2 linked regions of the Homo sapiens genome follow. The protein of the gene in region 1 interacts with the protein of each later gene in a biochemical or structural test. Each region holds a gene or a part of one and is shown in the gene's direction. Other genes may lie near its edges.

What was found.
Region 2: of the proteins of MAPK13 (region 1) and FGF12, one has a biochemical effect on the other in vitro, tested with the Homo sapiens proteins (one study listed by BioGRID).

The regions. Positions count from the first base shown.
Region 1 is NC_000006.12:36,140,349-36,145,150, forward strand, and holds the end of MAPK13 (mitogen-activated protein kinase 13), read left to right. Parts: 3' UTR 1-4,173; downstream 4,174-4,802. UniProt on the Homo sapiens protein: Serine/threonine kinase which acts as an essential component of the MAP kinase signal transduction pathway.
Region 2 is NC_000003.12:192,724,453-192,732,378, reverse strand, and holds the start of FGF12 (fibroblast growth factor 12), read left to right. Parts: upstream 1-4,837; 5' UTR 4,838-4,895; intron 4,896-5,055; 5' UTR 5,056-5,185; coding exon 5,186-5,198; intron 5,199-7,926. UniProt on the Homo sapiens protein: Involved in nervous system development and function. Involved in the positive regulation of voltage-gated sodium channel activity. Promotes neuronal excitability by elevating the voltage dependence of neuronal sodium channel SCN8A fast inactivation.

The DNA.
Region 1 (4,802 bases):
TGGGAGATGGCACAGCTCTCCAGAGCTTTGACCTGACAGTGGCTAGAACCTCTCTGTTTTTATCTGAGAAACTTTGGCAGAACAAATTTCCATGTGCACAAGCTGTCGGGCACAGTGGGTCTCAAATTTCCTTGTGCACCAGGGGACTTGTTAAAATGCAGATTCCTGGGCCCCACCCCAGGGCTTGTGACTCAGCAGGTCTGCAGTTGAGACCTTAGAATGTGCATTTGAATGAGGACCTCTCGCCCTGACCCAAGCCTAGTGATTCTGATGGATATCAGACCATAGTTCGAGACATTTAGTGGATTTCAGTCATACTTGATTTGTTGGGAGGCCTAAATCAAAAACCTATAGGAGGAGACTGGGGGGCTTCAGATGGAGTTTCACACTCATCTTACAGGTGTTAAAACTGAGGCTCAGAAAGCTTTTTTTTGTTTGTTTGTTTGAGACAGGGTCTGGCTCTGTCACCCGGGCTGGAGTTCAGTGGCACAATTACATCTTACTGCAACCTCAGCCTCCTGGGCTCAAGCCATCCTCCCACCTCAGCCTCCTAAGTAGCTGGGACTACAGGTCTGTGCCACCCAGGTGCACCAGGACTGCAGGTGGCTAATTAAAACATTTTTTTTCTTTTTTGTATAGGCGGGGTTTCTCTATGTTGCCCAGGCTGATCTTGAACTTCTGGACTCAAGTGATCCTCCCACTTTGGCCTCCCAAAGTGCTGGGATTATAGGCATGAGCCACCCTGCAGGCCCAGACAGCATTTTTAAGGCCTTGAAACTCTTCTGTATAATACTGTAATGGTGGATACCTATTGTGCATTTGTTACCATCTGTAGGACTGGATAACACAGAGTGAACCCTCAAGTAAACTATGGACTTCAGTTAATAATAATGTATCAGTATTGGTTCATAAATTGTAACAATTGTGCCACACTAATGCAAGATGTTACTCATCAAGAAAACTGAGGAGAGAGAAGGGGAGGAAGTAGGTGGGAACCTCTATACTTTCTACCAACCTAAAACTGCTCTAAAAAATAAACCACAGGCCGGTCGCAGTAGCTCACGCCTGTAATCCCAGCACCTTGGGAGGCTGAGGTGGGCGGATCACTTGAGGTCAGGAGTTCAAGACCAGCCTGGCCAACATGGTGAAACCCCATCTCTACCAAAAATACAAAAATTAGCTGGGCTTGGTGGTGCATGCCTGTAATCCCAAACTACTCGGGAGGCTGAGGCAGAATTGCTTGAACCTGGGAGGTGGAGGTTGCAGTGAGCTGAGATCACACCACTGCACTCCAGCCTGGGTGACAGAGTGAGACTCCATCTCAAAAAAACAAAAAAAACAAATACCCTGAGGACACAGAGACATTGGGTCAGACACCCACAGCTAGGAAGTGGTGGAGTCAGATTGGAACCCAAGTAGGCTTGAGCACTGTACCCAGCTTGGATTCAAGGGTTGCCCAGCCTTCCCTCTTCACGCCAGTCTGAGACCCTTACTGCTGACTGTGTCCATGGTCTCTGTTTTCTCTCCCACAGAATGGCCCTGCTGTCAAGGAGCTGGGGAGTCCTTGACTGGGACTGGCTAGTCTTGCCACAGCCCTGGCCTCGCTGGTTACTAAAACTGCCCCAGGTTCCCTGAGTCTACATCCCTCTAAGCCTCCTGAGAATTCTCACTGCCCCAAGGAAAAAGTCTAGCCTTCCTTCTTGGCCTGGCATTCAAAACCCCTTGTGTTCTCTCTAATCTCATCAGCTCCCACTGCCTCCCCTAGCTAGTCCTTATGTCAGTGTGGGACACCAGTCCTGGGATCCACCGTAAGGTTCATTCTGCATTCACAGGTTAAAGGTCTTGACAAGTCCTGCAGTAAAGAGATCCGTTCCTCATTTAATCCAGAACTTCCCAGATGTACTTAACCGCAGGACCCATTTTCTCCCAACAGCATGACACACATAGCCTTTTTTGCCCAGTGCAGCCCAGTGCACAGGTCCCGATATTGCCTCTCCCCAAGTAGGCTTGGCCTTCTTTTAGTGCCCGTGCGTGGAAGGCCCTCCATTCTCCTCTCCATTCTCCTTGGCCTTCAAGGCTCTACCTTAGGCCTCCCTCCAGGCAGCTGTTCTCCATCATCCCCCCTGGGCTGCAGGCCCTCTGTGGGCAGCATTTAGTGTGTGGTTTGGCCTCCCCTTCCCATTGCCCACTGTGAGCAAATACCTGTGCGTGAATGAATAATGAGTGAAAGATGTCCCAGGGGCCTGTCGGTCACTTCTTTGCCCCGACCAGGCCAATGTCATATGGAAGGTGGCAGAGAGCCCAGCAGGAAGCAGAAGTGGGCGGCCCTGGGCTGTACCTTTGAGCTGCTCTCCTGAAAATCTCTATTATTTCAGACTCCCAGACCCCACCCCCCGCTTCATCCTCTGGTGTCCTCCTAGGCCATCCCCACTCCGGAATTAAACCTCAGCCCCTCCCACAGAGTTTTCTCAAATCTGTGAAGTTTCTTCAAAAGGCGGTGGAGGTGCTCAGCAGTGCAAGGTGGGGGGTGGAGGGGGTGGGGAGTAGAGGGAGTGGGGGTTCCACGGGTTTGGGTCTTGCCCAGTGGGCACATGGCCTGTGTAATAGGAAACAAGTCCATTCTCCTGCTGTGGGGGGCAGAGGAGCTGGCGGGGCGAGGGAGGGGGAGATGTGGGCTCAGGTATTCTTGGTGGATGCGCTTCGTTCTGTGGCTGATGGGGTGGCTTAAAAGATCTTAACAGAGAGAGATCAGGAAGCCAGACTGCAAGGTGGGGGACATTTCCTAAGAGCAAGTGTACCCTCCATTCCCTCTTTTGAGGAACAAAGAGTATCTTTGCTGGGGCCTGAGTCATCCATGAAAACAGACAGCAGCGGTGTCCCAGGGCAGGGCTTGCCTGGCGTGGATTGGGGTGGTGCTGCCCCCAGTGAGGGGCAGCACAAGGGGAGACAGAAATGGAGGAATAGCCCCCGTAAGGGCAAGCCCAGTGTGCACCAGTGCCCAGAGCTGCCTGATGGAGGAACAGCTCCGTAAGGGTGAACCCAGTGTGCACGGGTGCCCGGAGCTGCCTGCGTGAGGCTGGGGGCTAGTTTGGATGAGGGCATGGCTCAACTTTCACTTGGCACATTGAAATAGCTTTTGCTGTCTGCTAGGGTGTGGAAAACTGTTTTTCCATGGCCCCAAGCAATGCTATAGCTACAGCTGAGGAGGGAGGAATCTCTCCCTGCCTCTCCTCCCAACTCTTGGCTTTTGCTTCCTTAAATTTGAACAATTCCCTAAGATCTAATGCTGGGAGGCTCCCCTTCCTTCATTACACAGTGAACTCATGTGCTCTATCTGCATTCCCCCTAAATCCTCCTGAGCTTTTAGGTAAGAGGCCGATGATTTCACAATCGGCAGCAGAGGCCTAAGGCCATTCCATCAAACTGAAGATGGCAGCAAGTTGTCCTCACTTCTTCATTGAGCACCCATGGGTGTGTACTGGAGCAAGGGTGGTGCCAGGGATTCTCCTGCTCTGGTTCCTCCTGCGGGGTCCCTGCTCAGCTGGGCAGCTGCCCTCACTCTGGGCGGGTGGCATGTGAGTGTCAACAGGGCCCCTCTCAGTCAGGGGCTCTTGGCCATTTTTTGTGCCATGGATCGCTTCTCAAAATCATATTTTCTTTTCTTTTCTTTTGAGATGGGGTCTCACTCCATTACCCAGGCTGGAGTGCAGTGGTGCAATCACAGCTCACTGTAGCCTCGACCTCCCTGGGTTCAGGTGATCCTCCCACCTCAGCCTCCCAAGTAGCTGGGACTATAGGCATGCACCACCATGCCTGGCTAATTTCAGAATAATATTTTCATACACATAAAATATGTAGGATTACAAAGTAAGCTAGTTATATTTATATACAGTTGTCAAAATATTTTTAAAATGTATAACGTGATACTATGTGTATAGGTTTCTTTATTAACATATTGAATAAAAAGATCGAGGGTAGGCCTATTAAACAATGGTAAACTGAAGAGAGATGAGTGTAAACAATATTTTAAGATAGATACCTGTGGCAAACTGTAAAGGGATATGAAAAACTCTGTAATTTCTATTGGCACTGCTGATACAACTGCACTTTGCTACCTTTGTTCATAACCAAGGAAATAGAAATGACTGAAAATAAAGTTGTATTCTATTCCAATCCAAGTGCACAGACCCCTGAATTCTATAGTTTGTGGACCCCAGTTATGAGCTATTGGAATGAGGCTGTTCTAGCTACTGAAATGAGGCTTTAGGTATCCTCTGTCAATTCCTAACAAACCCCCCAGCCCCACCCTCTATGATCATGGAGCCAGGCTGGAAACTTCCAGCACTGCACCTGGACGCCCACACACTCATCAGGGCCCGCTCCTCTGGACCGCCCAACCTCACCATCTGGGTAGAAATGGACCTGACTGGGGCATTTTGCTAGGGCAGCACTCCCCAACGTTTTTAGCTCCAGGGACTGGTTTTGTGGAAGACAACTTTTCCATGGATGGAAAGGTTTTGGGTGGGGAATGGTTTTGGGTGAAACTGTTCCACTTCAGATCATCAGGCATTAGATTCTCATAAGGAACGTGCAACCTGGATCCCTTGCATGTGCAGTTCACAATAGGGTTCGTGCTCCTATGAGAATCTTGTGCCGCCACTGATCTGGCAGGAGGCAGAGCTCAGGCTGTAATACTCACCTGCGGCTCACCTCCAGCTATGCAGCTCGTTCCTAACAGGCCACAGACAGGTATCGGCCCCCTGCCTGGGGGTTGGGGAACCCTGTGTTAGGGAATTGGTGGA
Region 2 (7,926 bases), on another chromosome or scaffold:
TATAATTTATTAAGCCAGAACTGTTTTTGATGGGCAAAGGGGGCATTCTTTAAAAGTATGTTGTGACAATGAGTATAAAACGGGAACATTTTGGGAAAACCAGAATGCACATTCACCCCAAATACAAGAAACCCGGTCTCACCTAATTCTTGGCACTTTGAAATAGCAAATTGCCAGGCTACTAGTCTATTTCCCCTATTCCAGGATTATCATTAAGTGAGTTCATCATAACTAGATCAAATTATGTTTCATCAACACTTTTATGAAGCAATTCTTCCTTTAAATCCTCTTCCATTTTGGGATGGGGGGATTAGACCCTTTTCTTATTAAAAAGGAGGGAACCTTCAGGGATTCCAGCTCTAATCCTTAGCCTGGATGGATCCAAGACCCTATATATAATAGTGAGTACAATTTATTGAGTGACCAGTATTTTAGACACTTTTATAAGTATTATGGTCAGTCCTTACAACAGCTCTGCCTACAAGAAGATATTACTTACTTTTCCAGATTAAAAAAATAGGACCCAAATGGATTAATTGCCCAAGATGGTACCATAAATAATAAGAAGCAAATTGTATTTGAGCCCACGTCTGTCTGGTTCCAGAATCTATTTTTTTCACTATGCTCTACTGTCTCTCTATTCAAATGTATGATAGAAAACTTAGGTGAGATAAAGAGATATGATCTCTCCCAGATACTCTGGAGTTTTGTAGCTCTGATCCCGGAACAGTACTAAGCATTTCTCTGCCTCCGTCCACTTTCCTCTTTGACATTGGAGATTCACATCTGGCAGAGAAACCTGGAAAATGATAATAACTTCTTATGTCCAAAAGTACTTTTGCACACTCACATGGTCCCTGCCCCACACTCATACCCCAACCCTGTGAAGCTCACACTTCAAGAACTAGCTCTATATATGTCTCCTCCAGGAAACTTTCTTAAAACCCTCAGGCTGGCTGACTGCCAACTCTTCTGCACCTCCTACTCCACCTGTGACAACCTATCTTATACCTTACGATAGCTTTTAAAATCATTTATGTTTCTATCATCTTCAATAGACTTTATGCTTCTGTACGGCAGAGATCATGTTTTATTCATACTTTAACCTCTCTGTGCTCCAGGTTGCTTATCTTTAAAACAGAGATCATAATAGTACTAACCTCATAATATTTTATTTTATTTCTTAAATTGACAAATAATAATTGTACACATTCATGGGGTAAACAGTGACATTTCAATACATATAATGTAAGTGATCAGATCAGGGTAATTATTATATTCATCATCTCAAATATTGATCATTTCTTTGTGTTGGGAAACTTCAATATCCTCCTTCTGCTGATTTTAAAGTATGTAAAATATTATTATTAACTATAACCATATTACAGTCGTATAGAACACTAGAACTTATTCCTCCCACCTAGCTGTAATATTGTATCCTTTTACAAATCTCTCCCTCCTTCCCCCTACCCTTCCCAGCTCCTCCTATCCTTTGTTCTACTTTTTACTTCTATGAAATCAACTTTTTCTTTTATCTTACACGTATGAGTGAGAACATGTGGTGTTTAACTTTCTGTTTCTTAGGCTTATTTCATCAAGCATAATGTCCTTCAGTTTCATCTATGTTGCTGCAAATGACAGGATTCCATTCTTTTTTATGGCTGAATAATATTTTATTGTGTATATGTACCCCACTTTCTTTATGCATTCATTTGTTGTTGGACACCTAAGTTGATTCCATATTTTGACTATTGTAATAGTGCTGCAATAAACATATGGGTGCAGATATCTCTTTGATATACTGATTCCCTTTCTTTTGGATAAATTCCCAGTAGTGGGATTGCTGGATCATATGGTAATTCTAGTTTTTTTTTTTTTTTTTTTTTAGAAAACTCAATACTGTTCTCCATAGTGACTGTACTAGTTTACATTCCCACCAACAGTGCATAAGAATTCCCTTCTGTCTGCTTCCTCACTAGCATGTGCTTTATTTTCTTTGTCTTTTGATAATAGCCATCCTAACTGGGATGAAATGATATCTCTTTGTGGTTTTAATATGCATTTCTCTGATGATTAGTGATGTTGAACTTTTTTTCATATATTTATTGGCCGTTTGCATGTTCATATAGCTTATTTAATGAATAAAGATAATATTCATTAAACATTTAGAATCCTTATAGTACCTGGCACATAGTAAGCTCTGAGCAATGTTAGGTCAATATTATCATCATTTTGTTATCATGGTGATTGTAGTTAATGTCACATAGTAAAGTACACAAAAACATGTATGCTAAATGTTATTAATTCATGAAACATTTTTATTGTTTCCTATGTTCAGGACACTCTAGACTACACTGAAGTAAAAGGAGGCCATTTAAAAATATGAGTGGGAAAAAGGAACAAGATATATACATAAATCATTCTGGTACAGAATAAAAAATAGTGATGGAAGAGAAGTAACTCATCAGTTTTGGAATCATTAGTGAGCGGATCATCAGTGTTCTTGGTAGAGAATATTTTCAGACTAAGAGTATCAGGGAAGACTGTAAGAAGGAGATGGATCTAGAGGAAAATATAAGATTTGAATTTGTAGATACTTGTGGTAGGTAGTGGTTTGATGAGGTCAAGATATTCCAGCAATGACTATGTAAGCAAAGGTAAGAAAAATCTTGACAGAGGAGCTATCATGAGCAAGAAGGTTGTTTTCCCAGTCAAGGCTTATCAATTGCATTCCAGATGTGCTGACCCCTGCAATTTCCCCATACGTGGGAAACTAGACTGCATAATTTGTGGTAGTGGGGGTCTGTGATCCCACTTTCCCCTGGTTTAAAAACAATCTTGAGGTTTGTTTAGGATAATAGCAATTGTTGTCTAGGAGTTAAGCTTGGAGAAGAATGGAAAGATCTTGAATGTCAGAACACAAATTTTGCATTAAATTTGATTTGCTTTCTATTTAATAAAGCAGCTGGGTTCTTAAAATTATGAATAAAAATAATGATAATTTATGAACTAGAAGGTTCTCCCTGTTCTTATTCACTGTAGATAATGGGAAGGCAGTTATATGAAAAATCATTCTGGACTATAGATGGCTTGCCTCTGCCTTTGAGGTATGACACTTAGGTTCTGAGCCCAGATCTGGTTCACCATGTGACTCTTTTCAAGTGCCACTCCTCCCCTGCCTTTAGTTTCTCCGTCTGTAAAAGAATAAATATGAAGAGTACATAGAGATGCATTCTAAAGATATCTCCTATTCTAAAACCTTTGAGAAGGAAAGAACATGTAACGGGGTGCAGTATTAAGAGCAGAAATTATTTATCTCAATGAAATAGACTATTGTTCTTAAGGAGCAACACTACTCCCACCCTAAGCTTACTTCCTAAGCCTATTCAACATTGAAAAGAAATCCTGAATTTTATGATTCTTCCAAACACGTACTTTGGCATACAGTTGGAGAACCTAAAAATTAGTAGGCCCTAGGTTGTGGCCTCTGCAATCCGATACTCCTAAATGCTGAATGGATCCAGGCGTTGCTGACCCACAGCAGTTCATTAGTGGGAGTCCTCCACTAATAATGTCCATGTCTGGCTGAACCATCCGTGGTTAATATTTGTAATCATGGCCCTCAGGCATTGGAAAAATCAAAGGATGCCCTCTGAATCACCAGAAAAAGATTAAATTAGATACAACTCCAGGTTTCTTGTTGGGAGTACATTTTATTATATTTCAATGTTTTGAAAATTGGGACTAGAAGCCTACTGTGGAAGGATCTTTCATGAAGTAGAGTATGTGACTAATCTGCACATCTCCTTCCTTAACCATTTCAGATAACAGAGTTTTCTGGACTTCTGGAGAATAAGATTATTATTCTCAAGGAGAGATGATCACCTCAGGAAAATCTGGACTATTGAAAAAAAAAGGTAGTAAATACAACACAATTTTTCCTGTTAAACATTTTGCATATAAACGAAATACAGTGTGGGCTTTAGAAATATTTTGATATGAAAGTAGCACTTCAAGAGATTTGTGGTTTTGCATCTTCCTCTAGAGCTCTGTACAAGAAAAATACTCTATCCCTGCAACTTCACAAAAATGATTAGGTATTGCTTTTGGAAGTACTTATTATCAATAAGACGCCTCCCCACCTTTGGGGACTTCTTGCAGGTTGTTGGAAAAAAGCTAAAAAGAGCACCTCAAAATATCCTCAGTGGCTTTTTTGAAGAACTTTAGAAGCCTTGGAGCCTGCTCATGGAACAGTTTTGAGGTGGAGGCAGGCAGGAAAACACTGAGTTTGAGTAACAAAGAAGCGAGAGAATATTAACCTTTGACAGCTCCATAACTACTCTCACCCCACTCTCGAAAAACAAAACAAAACACATACAGGAATATAACAAGCAATGTGAAGTCAGTGGGGAGAGGAGAGGGAAGCAGACAGCTGGAAAGTTACTGCAGCAAGTAGAAAGAGAAACCCAAATTGTGAACATTAAAAACGATTCGTAAATCTCTCCTCCCTGCCTTCTGAATAAAACCATACCCTGCCTGGAGACACTAGCCTCCTCTAAGACTTCAGTAATTCGTCCTGATGCACGCAGTACTAGTCCAATCCATTTTCTAGTTTGCAGAGGAAAATCCGGTCCGGCGTTTATTTTTAGCAGCGCTTCCCTGTGACCGAATGCTACAGCTCCTCAGCTGGGATAACTGAGGACCGTATTGGGGAGGGAGGCGAAGGGGGCGGGGGAGCGGGAGGCGGTGAAAAGGGGAGGGGGGACGCCCTGCGCATGCGTGCCAGCGCCCATGCAAATCTGCTGTGCATCCAGAGAGCAAAGTGGGATGATCTGTCACTACACCTGCAGCACCACGCTCGGAGGACAGCTCCTGCCTGCAGCTTCCAGACCCAGGTAAAAAAAAAAAAAAAAAAATCTGAGCGGGCACTGTGCATGCATTTCAGTATCAGATGCGCGTCGCAACGTATCCCCTGTAGAGGCAATCTGCTGCTGCTCCTAAGTGTCCTTTGGTGGCTGATTGCAGCTTCAAGGTTTAAGAAATCCCATCTTTCAGGAAGCCTGAGGGGAAGGAAGGAAGTACGGGCGAAATCATCAGATTGGCTTCCCAGATTTGGGAATCTGAAGCGGGCCCACATCTTCCGGCCAACTTCCATTGAACTTCCCAGCACTCGAAAGGGACCGAAATGGAGAGCAAAGGTATGTGGTTGTCCCTATCGGGGGACTTCCCGCTGCATGTGCGTGTGGCCAAGGCAATCCTCGGCGAGGGGACTGCAGTGCTTGGGGAGCGAGCATCATACTAGGTCGATAGAGGAGGAGATGCTATGTCCATTGCAGCACTGGGGAAGTGTGGCAGGAAGGCGACTTCTTTTTAACTCCCACAGCTTGGAAGACAGTGTTTAATACTCCATCAGTTGCGTAGTGAACTGTGATGAGTTTTTTGGGGGGAGGTGGGGAGAGTCCCCCCAAAATGGAGGAGGAGGAGGAGGTATGTGTTAGTAAAGCAATATCTTTTCTGTATAATGGATGGACTCAAATAAATCTATTTCATTTGCTTTAGAATTGCTGACAGGCACGTTTGTACCTGATATCCAATAATGCATTGCTAAAAAAAAAATGTTTGAATTTCACCACCCCCACCTCATGAAGATGGTATTTCTGGGTGTGTATGACCACATCCTACTGCATTTTGAATATATATCAGCAGAGAAATTGGGTCTATTTGGAACAGCATGCGTTAGAACTGACCTCTAAGAAGAACAGTGTATGGGAGTACTGCTTGGCTTCCAAGCATAATGCATTTACTAGTTCTGGACATGTACATATTAATGTTCTCCTCATAAGCAAATCTGCATAATGTATGCATGCCAACTGATAAATGAACTGTAAAAATCAACTTCTGAATGGCATATTGAACACACATAAACACAACGACTATTCTAACCACAAGATTAGATATCTTTTGGATTTAACCCCATCTATGCAGGTCTGTTTCTCCTTCTCCTTAAAACGCCCACCAGGTTGTGAGAGCCTTGAGTGATATGGTGGTCAGATATCCAGGAGGCATACTGGATGTATTTAATTCTGGCGAAATCAGAAGAAATGATGTCAACTTTTATGAAACTATATTCATTACCCAGAACTCGGGAAGCTATATTTGAAACAAGATTTTATTTTTAAACCAGGAATGTCAGTCACTGTGGTAATGTACTTAGGATCAGGGAATGGTGGTGAGTTACCTATTTCTGGGCTGATTAATGAAACTGGAGTGTTGAATGATAGCAGTTCTATGTTCAATAAAGTGTTTTAAGTATTTAATTGGTAGATTTAAAGTATTTGAACCTAGGCAAGCATTTATAGTATAAAAAGAGCTGAATCAACATGGATTAAGACTAGCAGGCAATTTTCAGTTCAGGCAGATTATTCTTATGATACATTGATGGGCATCTCCACGTCTGACAATGATGTACACATATGAGAGAATCCATGTCTATAAGTATATTTGAGGCATATATTATTAACTCTATTATACTCCATTTTAAAATAAAAAGGCAGTCCTTAACATATAAAGGTTTGTAATATTCTAGCTGACTAAGTATTTCTGGGACATAAGGTTAACAACAGAAAAAGAATATCATTTTACTATGAAACAGTTTTTCTTGCTTAGATGACACCTGGTATTTGGTCACTAAATTTAGTTATTTGACAAAGGTTCTTGGTAACAGTTTTGCCTCCAATGTGTATACTAATTCCTGTTCAATCATAAAAAGAGGCTATATCTCTCGGCAGTAATCTTTTATTTTCCTTCGTTGCCCATAAAACATGCTACGTGTCACTTAGCATTCCAGGTGGTTTAATGATCATATTGCTAACAGTAGAGTTCTAGCTGTTCTTTCAGTCTTTTGAATTCAGAAAGGAGAAAGAATCTCAGAAATACATCCGAAAAGAATCAGTTCAGAAGTTCTATGTCAATCCAGACAGCAATGATATAGTGAATCACAGCACTGATCCAAAGGCAACGAAGACTTTTGCTGTAGGCCAACATTGTGGTCATTTTGCAGAGGTCCCATAATTGCCTCTGAAAAAAAAAAAAAACATGATGAAAGTCTTTATGCATGTTAGTTCCTGGACTTTCTTAATGAAGCTGTGTTAGCTGCTTGGCAATCAGATTAAAAATGGCTAATTACTTATACATTGGCCTCACTTTCTAAGTTGGTGCAAATGGCACAGCTAACGATGGTAGCTAACTTGAAATTTTTATTCCAGCCAAAAAGAGTGTATTAAGAGAAATGTGTATTTGTGCAATACTGTAATTGGTGCATCTTTCACATTTTATGCTGCCGTGTACAAACTTCTTCCCCCAACAGATTCAAATCTAATTCTAGGAAGACATTCTCAAATGTATGTATATATAATACTTTTCTAGTAGAAACTCTTTAAAGATAGAGTCATATTGCGTGACTCAGTTGAGGGTTCAAGAGTTCTCTATCCCATACCCAGATCTAATGGCCTGTTTAATCTTGAATCCCATCGCCAACACTTGACAACTTTCACATTACCTCTAGCATTTGACAGCCTTTCTTAGAGCATTTGTCCAGCATCCAGAAAGTTGAACTTCAGCTATTTACAAATAAGATCAATTTATTTTTGCTTCCTTATTTACAACTTTGCATCACTCCCTGTCATACAGGGTAAAGAAGAGAGGAAAATACATCAGTTGACCTGAGGTTCAATTCATGATCTAATTTCAGCGATTTTTGTGCACCATGTACTTAACATTGTCTCAAAGATTTGGGTTGGTACGCAGTCCGAGCAGCTCTGACGGAATTTGTGCCTTGCGTATCTTAAGGGCTTGAGATTCTTAAATGAGTTAAAATGTTTAGTATTTAGAGGAGTGGTTCACAAAGTTTGCTGCACACTAGAATCA